3 separate regions of the Homo sapiens genome follow, and all the other regions are reported to be linked to region 3. The links are microRNA targets in miRTarBase. Many come from high-throughput screens and were not tested one by one. Region 3 holds a microRNA gene; each other region holds the end of a gene's coding sequence.
What was found. The annotated mature microRNA hsa-miR-124-3p reads UAAGGCACGCGGUGAAUGCCAA and lies in region 3 at 1,487-1,508, opposite strand. An mRNA with a match to its seed (bases 2 to 7 or 8) in the 3' UTR can be bound and repressed. Matches are read on the target gene's strand: a 7mer-m8 pairs with bases 2 to 8, a 7mer-A1 pairs with bases 2 to 7 and ends in A, and an 8mer does both.

Region 1 (3,000 bases), not on the chromosome of region 3:
ATTTCATTCGTAGGGTAGCAGAAGACTTGCTGGAAGAATGCATTTTGTGAACATGAGCCCCTTTTTGATTTGAGTTGGTTCTGGAGTTGTAACCTTTCTTTCAGGTGGTTATTTTAGGGCTTTTAAGGGGTTGCTTTACTTCTCAGGTGAATTGTATAGCTTCTCATGAGAGCTCAACTTTATTTTAAACCTTTTAAACCTTCTGTCGCCCTCAAATTCAAACCACACACAAACCAGGTTCTATTTATGCTCGTTTTTCTTTCTTCTTGGCTCAAAGTGTGAAGAAGTTTTTAGACTGCTTTGTAAAAATCAGCCTTTATCATTTGATAATGCTCCCAAACCCTGCTGTGTTTCAGGAGACAGCTGTGCCCATTCAGAAACAGAGATCAACATTGTAAGTTGGAATGCTCTTATTTTGCCACCTGTCCCCGAGGGCTGTGCTGAGAAGACAATGTGGTCTCCACCTGGCATTCCTTTAGACAGCCCGACAGAGGTCCTTCAGCAGCCCCGGGAAACCTGAGGACATGCAAACAACCAGTCATGTTCCAACTTCAAGCCGGTAACTGCACACAACAGGCCTGGGAGCGAACTGTGTGAAGGACCTTAATTCAAATCAGAGAAAATCATTATTTATTTTTTTGTAGTAGTAATGTCATATGAATGTATCTTAAAACGTGTGCCCTTTTATATTATTTATGCCTTAAATGTTTTCTTCCCCATTCCTTCCTCCCCCTCGGTAGGAAACAACCTTGTTTTGCATAGTATTCAGTCACCTGGAGGGCAGAGGGGTCCTTCCATGTTTTCTAACAGCTATAGTGACAGCAAGAGCTCCTCATGCAAAGGATCCCATCTCTTGGCTGCTTCGGCTAGGAGGGAATGCAGGGGCCCGTTGAAGGTTGCCACCAGCTGGGTTTTCAGGTGGAAAATGGTCTTTCAATAGTGTATTCTCAGACTTTTTTTTGTTTGTTTTTTGAGATGGAGTCTTGCTGTCATCCAGGCTGGAGTGCAATGGCTCGATCTTGGCTCACTGCAACCTCCGCCTCCCAGGTTCAAGCAATTCTCCCGCCTCAGCCTCCTGAGTAGCTGGGACTACAGGCACCTGCCACCACGTCCAGCTAATTGTCTTGTATTTTTATTAGAGACAAGGTTTCAGGCTGGTTTTGAACTCCTGACCTCAAGTGATCCACCCGCCTCCGCCTCCCAAAGTGCGAGGATTACAGGCGTGAGCCACCACGTCTGGCCTGTATTATCAGACTTCCTGAGAACACTTTGAAATCAACTGCAGTTGTGACCCATGTTTATAATAACAGACCTGGCTGACGGATTTTACAAGAGTGCCTTCCACAGAAGTGGTAATGTGACCTGTTGACTTTGTATCTGCACGTGGGCACGAGTGATGTTCAGTTTGCTAGGCACTAGTCATAGTGTTATGGACGTGGTGGAGTGTAAGGTCTTGATGAATTACGGCAGTATGCAGAAAAGGAACCAAGGCCAGAGAGACAAATAATGCCTCATGTCCCACTGCTTTAAAATTACATTAATTTATAAAATGGCCACTATGGGCTCTTTTTGACTGTTTCTCGGAGTAGGAACAAAATAAGACATTAAATGGTGGCTTGAAGAGAAAGATACACATTTTCAGAAGAAAGAAAGGGGAGGGCTGCAGGGAGCCTGTCTTGGCGGGAGCTCTCCAGTCTGTTGGATTAGCACAGGGACACGCTTATGGTGCCATGACGCCGAAACTAGTCATCCCCCATCTCCAGCATAGGCAACGGCCTGCAGGGGTGAGTGTCAGAAAAGACTTACTTTGGAAGAAAAGGGTTTTTTTTTGTTTGTTTGTTTTTTGTTTTTTTTTGTTTGTTTGTTTTGGGTTTTTTTCCTGAAATTTCCTGATACCTTTTTCAGAATGTCACCCTTGTAAATAGGCACCTAAAGCCAAGTTGGTCAGCAGAGCTCCTGACCACGGCTGCCTCTGCGTGACAAGGACATTTGCAGCTGCCTTTGGAAGGCTCTTCACATTAAAAAACAATAATTATGTAAGTGTGTTTCATAGCTTGAGTCAAGCTTTCAAGGATCACTGCTCCTTTGTGCATTGTGCATCCCTTTGGGGAAAGAAACAGAAAATTATTCTCTTTCTATAGAGTCAAGCAATTCCAGCAGAAGTGAAGAAATGTTAGTTTCCCAGAAATCGCAGTGGAATAGAATACAATACTGTGTTAACCAACTTTCTGTATAAATGCATCAGTATTCCCTTACATATGTCTATATATTTTATAATAGAACTGTTAGTGAAAATGTGCTTGTTTAAGCTGGGTCACTATGCAAGAGTTACTTCCAGTAGAATGTAGTGAATGTAATTCCCTAGTCGGATATTAGGGATGCTGTAGACCCAAGTTCTACATTCCAGATGTCCGTGCCTATAGTATACTGGATTTATTCTTCATGTTGCTTAAATGCAGTTAGCTCTGGAGGGGGATAGCTGCATCCCTTACTTCTGTGACTAGCAAAGGACAAAGTCCCAGCGCACAGAATATGAAAACATACCCTGTGTTAGCCAATCAAGTTACAGCAATGCTGTCACAAAGGGAGTTTTAGAAAACTGGGGAGTCATTGTCCGTAGACAGCCATTTTGATTTAGGAAACAGGTGTATTAGCATGAGCCTTAGGTCATGAACTGCTTTTAAAGATTGAGTTTGAATATGGGATCTGTCCACGAGGAAGAGAAAATGGCTTTACCTTTAGGACAATCTCATTGTGGACTGCTTTATTTATATTATTAGTAACGCTGTTTTAAGTGTTATTCTTTTTATTGTATTTTATTTATAAAAAATGCCTTTATATATTGAAATATATAAATATATATATATAAACACACACACACACACACACACACACATATATATATATATATATAATTGCCTTTATATTTAGGCGGTATGAGTTCTCCCTAAGCGTGAGTTGGCTCTGCCCTGCACAGGCACCCAAACAGTCCTACCTAAT
Region 2 (3,345 bases), not on the chromosome of region 3:
CTCAAACTCATCACTGTTGCCTTCTACGAATCTCTGAGTCACTTCCTCTCATTGGCAGAAGGTGCCAGAGCCTGGCTATATTCTCTCCATCCCGACTCCTGTCATTGTCTTTGGTGACTGGAACATCCATACCGACAATTCTGATGCCACCATAGCCTTTGAGTGTCTCACTCCCTATGACCTTTGTCCCCGCCCCCATAGCATACACTCAATATTTGTTGACAATGCGTAGACAACAGACTCATTGGAAGAGGTGCCAGTTATCCTCAAATTTATAATGCCTATAACTAGGGTGACCATATCATTTATTTTCCTAACTGGGACAGGTTTGTGAGTGAAAGAGGACACCAAAATAATTAAAATTATATTACTTTTGGAAATATTTACTTATTGATGACAAATTGGTTTTTATATTAAGGCCCCTATAAAATAACTAGATTCAAAAACCATTTTCCAAAATAAAATATTTCTTTAAAAAATCCAAATAACTTGTATGTGTACATGGAAGCAATGTTGAAAAACTCCTTTATGGGGTTTATCTTCACATGCAAAGATGTAGGCGGAATAATCGTTCTTAGTCCTTCTTTAAGTTTTTAAAATTAGCTTTTTTTTTTTTTTTTTTTGACGGAGTCTCAAACTCACTCTGCTCACTCTGTCACCCAGGTCACCCAGGCTGGAGTGCAGTGGCACCATCTCGGCTCATGCAACCTCCACCTCCCAGATTCAAGCGATTCTCCTTCCTCAGCCTTTCAAGCAGCTGAGACTACAGACATGCACCACCATGCCCAGCTAATTTTGTATTTTGAGTAGAGACGGGGTTTCACTATGTTGGTCAGGCTGCTCTTGAACTCCTGATCTCCTGTGATCTACCCGTCTTGGCCTCCCAAAGTGCTGGGATTACAGGCATGAGCCACCATGCCCGGCCTAAATTAGCTTCTTAGCTGAGTCTGGCATGAATAGAGTGTCACCAGTATCTTTCTGAAGAATTTCCTTTAAAAAAAAACCCAGATTTATATTTTGAAGTTTTTGGACAAAATTGTAATTGCATTCAAAGTAAATTTTATGGCAAATAAATCTGAAATTGTTGACACCTTTAATTGATTCTTCTCTGTAGACCACAATATTTTCAATTGACAATATACTCTCTCTTCAGCTATTAAGAAATTTGGTAAGCTCAGTGTAAATTCTGCTGACTGAATGATATCCTCGATTCTAATTTTTTATGTAAATATTTTGTCCCAAATATTGACACAATTACTGTTTCTGCTCCCATTCAGAGTAGTATTCTTCACAATATATTTTTATAAAACATAACCTATCAAGTAAGTCATCTCTATTTATAATTCTTTTGGACATTTCCCAATTACACATATATTTCACATGCTGATAGGTGAGTCTTTGGAGAAGCTGGAAGTAAAAAGTGAAGTGCAACCAAACTCATCCCAGCTTATTTTAATGCAGCTAGCAATAATATTTGGTTAACAAATGAGAAATCCAAGAGAAATGCTCAACTGGATGGACCCAGGGCAGCAGGTAAAAATGGGGCCTCTTTGGGGAAATGTAACACTAACTCCTCAAGGGTAGCTCAGTGCTTCTAGATCACGGCAGCAGATACAAATCACCAGAGAGCTCTTAAAACGTGCCAATGTTCAAGCTCCAATCCCAGGGACTCAGATTTCACTGGTACTGCGGTGGAGCTTGGGAACCAGCACTGTAGTCTCCTAAGTGATTCTAATGCACAGCCTACTACACCACTTTTGGTTTTGGAGACAGAGTCTCACTCTGTGGCCCAGGCTGGAGTGCAGTGGCACAATCTCGGCTCACTGCAACCTTCACCTACTGGGTTCAAGCAATTCTTGTGTCTCAGCCTCCCAAGTAGCTGGGACTACAGGTTCGTGCCACCATGCTAATTTTGTATTTTTAGTAGAGACGAGGTTTCACCATGTTGGCCAGGCTGTTCTCGAACTCCTCACCTCAGGCGATCCATCTGCCTCAGCCTCTGAAAGTGCTGGGATTACAAACGTGAGCCCCCGCGCCTGGTCTACTGCCCCACTTTTAAGCAAGATCAGCTTGGTCCTCAAGAGCTGGCTGCTCCTAAAGCATCATGTGGCAAGTATTCATCGACTCAGACAACAGCGAGGGAGGCACATCAGGAGAAGCAACATCACTGTACATTGTCTCTGCACCTCTACAGGTGTGTTGTTACCTTAGGCCAGTTGTGAGCCCAGAGAAGTTGCTCTGGGAACTGAGGAGAGCAAATGGTGGCCCTGCCACGAAACTTGTGTACAAAAGACACAGTCAGAAACATTGCATGTCATCCTTCTAAACATTTAATTCAGCAATTCCTACATTGTCATGACAAAAATGAAACTTGCTGAGGGTTACAGAGTTCTAATCAGAAATAACAACTTAAAAATCTCACAAAAGCTCTACGTAAGCCTGTCGTAAGGGCTGCACTGTATTCCGAACATTTATTTTGAAAACAATTGTCAAAATGTAAAATCTCCAGCACCCTCAACATGATGTAGCCTTTTGGCTCATTCTATACGTTTGTGATCATCTTTGTAACTCCAAGTTTTGGAATATGAAAAAGCATGATGGCAAAGAATAATAACAAGACATTTGTTTCTCCATGCCCTGCCCAAGACTTGATGCACCGTGCGTGCCCCATTAAGCGGTGGGGTGGTCCAACACGTCAGTTAGTAAAGCAGCACTTGCTGGTGCTCTGCCTGCTCTGAATTCAGTTCCGAGGCTGTGAGTTGAACTCTGTACAAATGTTCTGGATGATCCTGGGGACATACTGATGGAGGTTGTCAAACTCGTCCACAAAGAAGGAGTGGTCTCTGGCGGGGTGAGTGGCAATGACTTCTAGCTCCTCTTGGGCAGCCCAGGCAACGCCTATCGCATAGGTGATCACTCCTGTGGGGACAAAGGTTAGATGAACAAATGTCCCCAAGTAAAGGTGCTGCTAAAGAATCTCTCTCTTCTTGTGGCCCTGTTGGCACAGCCAAATCCAAAATCAGAAATATGCCCAAACAAAACAAAACCAAAAATACGCTACAGGCCTCTAGGTTTCCAGAATAAAGACTAAGTATGGCCATTCATTTATTCACTCAATAAATGCCTTTGAGCATACACTCTATGCCAACAGTAACAACGTTTATATAATTGTTATCTCAGGAGTTTATAGTATTTTAGGAAACAATGAACAAAATGGAGTAAATAACATGGTAAGAATTTCATGTTTGGGAATAGAAGAGGGGAAGATATTTTGGGACAAGTGAAACTTTTGGGGCCATGCAGATCAGAATACATGACACATGCCTGCTCTACCAGTGGGAAGAG
Region 3 (3,345 bases):
GAAGGGGACGCCAAGCCCCGGGGTCAGTGTTGTGGTCAGGCCGGGGCTTGCTGGGGCTGCCTATGCCACTTCTGTGCCCTCCAGGGGGAACCTGCCCCTGAGGAGACTGGTGGACCGTGTTCTGACTCTGCCTGGCTGACTGGGGTGGGGGTGGGAAGATGGAGGCACCAGTGGCTCCTGCTTGTGTCTGCAGCAGGCGACTTGGGTGGAGGGGCTGGAGGTCTGTGCTGAGGACAGCCGCAGAGGCAGGTTCCCTTTGTGGCCCTGCAGCGGCGGTGGTGGGGGTGGAGATGCCACTGCCTGAAACTCAAATGGTTCCTTTTATCCTGATCTTCTGCTCCCTGCCTTGGGCCTGGAGCTGGGAGAACTTCAGGTGACTCAGACTCCTGCCTCGGATTGAAGCCGGGGAGGAGAGGCTCAGCCTCTACCTGGTTAAGAGGAAAGAGGCAAAGCTGCAAAGCCAGGTCTGGCACTCGCCCCAGGGGAAGGGGGCTTTTGGGGAGGGGGTCGTCCTCTGACTGTTACCGGGGCATCACAGCCCAGCCGGGGCCTGGGATGGGCGCGGGGGAGGCGGCGCAGAGGCGGTGCCGGGCGTCAGCAGGTGGCGCTGGCTTCCGGGGACAGAAAAAAAACCCCTGCAGCAAACCCGAGTGGGTGTCACTGCGGCTGCAGATGGCGGCGGGGGAGGGATTTGTCATTTTCTCCCTGGGCTGCGGAGTCTCACGTGCCTGGTCCTGCACAGCCCAGAGCCGGCTTTGGGGGCGGGATGCGGTCCGGCGTGTCCACCGCCCTCGTTTGGACCCTGGACGCGGACGCAGACCCCCGTCCCCATGCAAGCCTGGTCCTGGGCTGCGGGGGCTGCTCTGGGGCCACAGCGAGCGCCGCCTCCGCCCCGCCCCGCGGCGCAGCGGCCCGAGGAAGGGCAGACTTAGCGGTGACCTCAGACCCTGCCCCACCTCCTCCCACGTTGCCGTGGCAACTGTCCAGGGCGCCCGCTGTGGGGGCGAGGGCCGCACTTGGCCGCCCTCCCGTCCCGCGGGGGCCGCCCCGCCGCCAGCACCGCGGACAGCGCCGCACCCTAGCCCGCCGCCCCACGCACCCGCCCGCCGCTCCCCGTGGACCCTCCCTTTGTCTCCCGGGCCCCGCCGCCCTCTGCGGGCGCCTGGGCGCTCCGCGCTGCGGACACACGTGGCCGGGGGCCGGCTGGCCGCAGCCTGGCCCCGGCCGCAGGCTCCCCCCTCGGCCGCCCTCGGCCGCCCCCACCCGCCCCGCGACGCCAGAGGCGTGCGGGCCCCTTTGTGTCCCGCGGCCAGATCCCCGGCCCGGCAGCTGGGCCGCACTCTGGGCGGGCGCATTGTTCGCCGGATTTGTCCGCGGCGCGAATGGCCGCCGGGGGCCGGGCTCGCCTTCCTCCCGCGGGAGGGGCGCTGGGCCGGACGGGCTCGCGGGCCATTTCCATGAGAAAGGAGCGGCGGAGGCGCCTCTCTTGGCATTCACCGCGTGCCTTAATTGTATAGACATTAAATCAAGGTCCGCTGTGAACACGCAGAGGGGCCCTCAGGGCTGGGGCGGGCGGCGAGCGTCGGGGCCAGGGTCGGGACCGGCTCGGGCTTGCGTGGGGTCCTCGCCCGAGGGGCGCGAACGCTCAGGCGTCTTCGCCGCGTGGCGGGCAGGGCGGGGGCGCTGCGCTCAGCCGACTGTGCTGTCCCAGTCCGCCCCCGACTCGGAGGAGCCCACACTTCTCCCCTTTCCGCGGCAGAGAGTGGGCCCCCAAGTGCGTCCCTCCGGGCGTTCCTGGAGCTGGGGCGCCCGGGAATCGCGAAGACGGATTCCGGGGGTGGGGGTGGTGAGCGCGTGCGCACCCGGCCGCCTCCCGCGGGGCTCCGAGGGGCGCAGAACCGCTCCGACTGGGCGGCGCGAGCTCCTCCGCAGCTGCCTTCCCCTGCCGTCGCCCTGCCCGTGCCGACCCAGGAGCGCGCACCGAATGCGGTTAAAAGAACGAATCTCGATGCTCAAAGATGAAAACTCGTCTCTTTTTACAACCCAGCGAGCTCGTCCTCTCCGCGCGCAGCGGGCCCGCGAGAAGGCGCTCGAGCTGTTCGTGGAGAGAAAGACGGGGAGACCCAGAGAGGCCGCTTGCCCGGCTCGCCCCGGCCCGGCCCCGAGCGTAATTACCAGTCCCGGCGGGAGCCGCTGCTGCCGCCTCCGCTCCCTGCGCCTCCCGCGCCGCCGCCAGTTCCCGCCTGCTCTTCGGCTCCCGGGGGCCCCGCGCGCTGCTGCCCTGGGCGGAGAAGGGCGCGGGAACCCCGAGAAGGGAGCCAGGCAAGTCCCCGAGCGCCGCAGGCCGGCTGCGAGCCGAGTGTCCACGGGGTCCACGCTGCAGGCGCCCAGCTCCTGCTAGCCCGGCCCGGCCCCGATGCAACTGTCCCCGCGCCCGCCGCCGCCGCCGCCGTCGCCGTTGCCTCCGCGCGTATCCGCGCTCCGCTCCGGCACCGGCCGATTATCACTGGGGCGCGCGGTGACGTCACCCGGACACCGGCCCCGCCGCTGCCTCCCCGAGGTGTCCTTGAGAACTGCGGGGCACGCGCGCCGCGCACACGCGCACACACGCACTGCGCGCCTCGTGCCTCCCGCGCATTCGCACCGCGTCCCGCCCCGCGCGCTCCTCGGCTCACGCGGACTCAGCCATCGAGCGCCCTCGACCGTGCCCTGCGCCCGGCGGCCACACGGAGACCCAAGGAAACGCCTGTCTCCCACACACTCCAGCCCCTCACATGGCCCTCCTGCACCCACGCGCGCAGCCCCTCCAGCTGCACATTGACACCTCTAGCCACACCCCGCCACGCGCACGCCTCGCCACGCGCACGCCTCGCCGGCACGCAGCCCAGCGGCACCCGCAGACACGCACCCGCACTCGGGCCCTGACCGCGGGTTCGCGTCTCCTGTCTGGCGCCTGCAGAACGCACTCTGCCGCGCAGCTCACACCGCGGTCCTCCAAGCCTCTCAGTCCTGAGAAAGGCAAGGGTCCCGCCGGCCTCCTGCGGATGGCCCTGCTGGGCTCCGTACAGTGGGGTGGGAATTAAAGGTCGTCCTTCCCCGCCCCCATCGGAGCTTGCGGTTCTCACAGTTTCAGACCGGGATGGGAGCTCTTGCCCGTAGGGACCACGGAATCACAGGCGACACTCCACGGCCCGACTGCAGTCACTGCCAGCTCGATAGGGTCCTTGGGGCGCCCCCGATCTGGCCCTCTAGGGCCAGGGATCAGTGGCTTCCCCAAGCCTCACCGTCCGGAGCCTCCCCCGCTGGCCTTTGTTTAGACTGCAAGGAGCGCAGGCCGGCGCGGCC

Region 1: the mRNA of CDON is a reported target of hsa-miR-124-3p. Seed matches in the 3' UTR shown: 7mer-A1 at 697-703 and 7mer-m8 at 1,335-1,341.
Region 2: miRTarBase lists VIT as a target of hsa-miR-124-3p. The part of its 3' UTR that is shown has no 7-base or 8-base seed match.

The regions. Positions count from the first base shown.
Region 1 is chr11:125,958,462-125,961,461 of GRCh38, reverse strand. CDON (cell adhesion associated, oncogene regulated) reads left to right here. Exons shown (of 20, transcript NM_001378964.1): 20 at 357-3,000. The coding sequence ends at 520. Among named protein-coding and RNA genes, the nearest start is that of VSIG10L2, 14 kb to the right of the region's middle.
Region 2 is chr2:36,813,757-36,817,101 of GRCh38, reverse strand. It overlaps VIT (vitrin), which reads right to left. Exons shown (of 16, transcript NM_053276.4): 16 at 2,308-2,919. The coding sequence ends at 2,741. Among named protein-coding and RNA genes, the nearest start is that of VIT, 120 kb to the right of the region's middle.
Region 3 is chr20:63,176,715-63,180,059 of GRCh38, reverse strand. It overlaps MIR124-3 (microRNA 124-3), which reads right to left and starts at 1,560; the gene lies at 1,474-1,560. RefSeq lists a silencer at 776-1,065 and an enhancer at 1,353-2,313.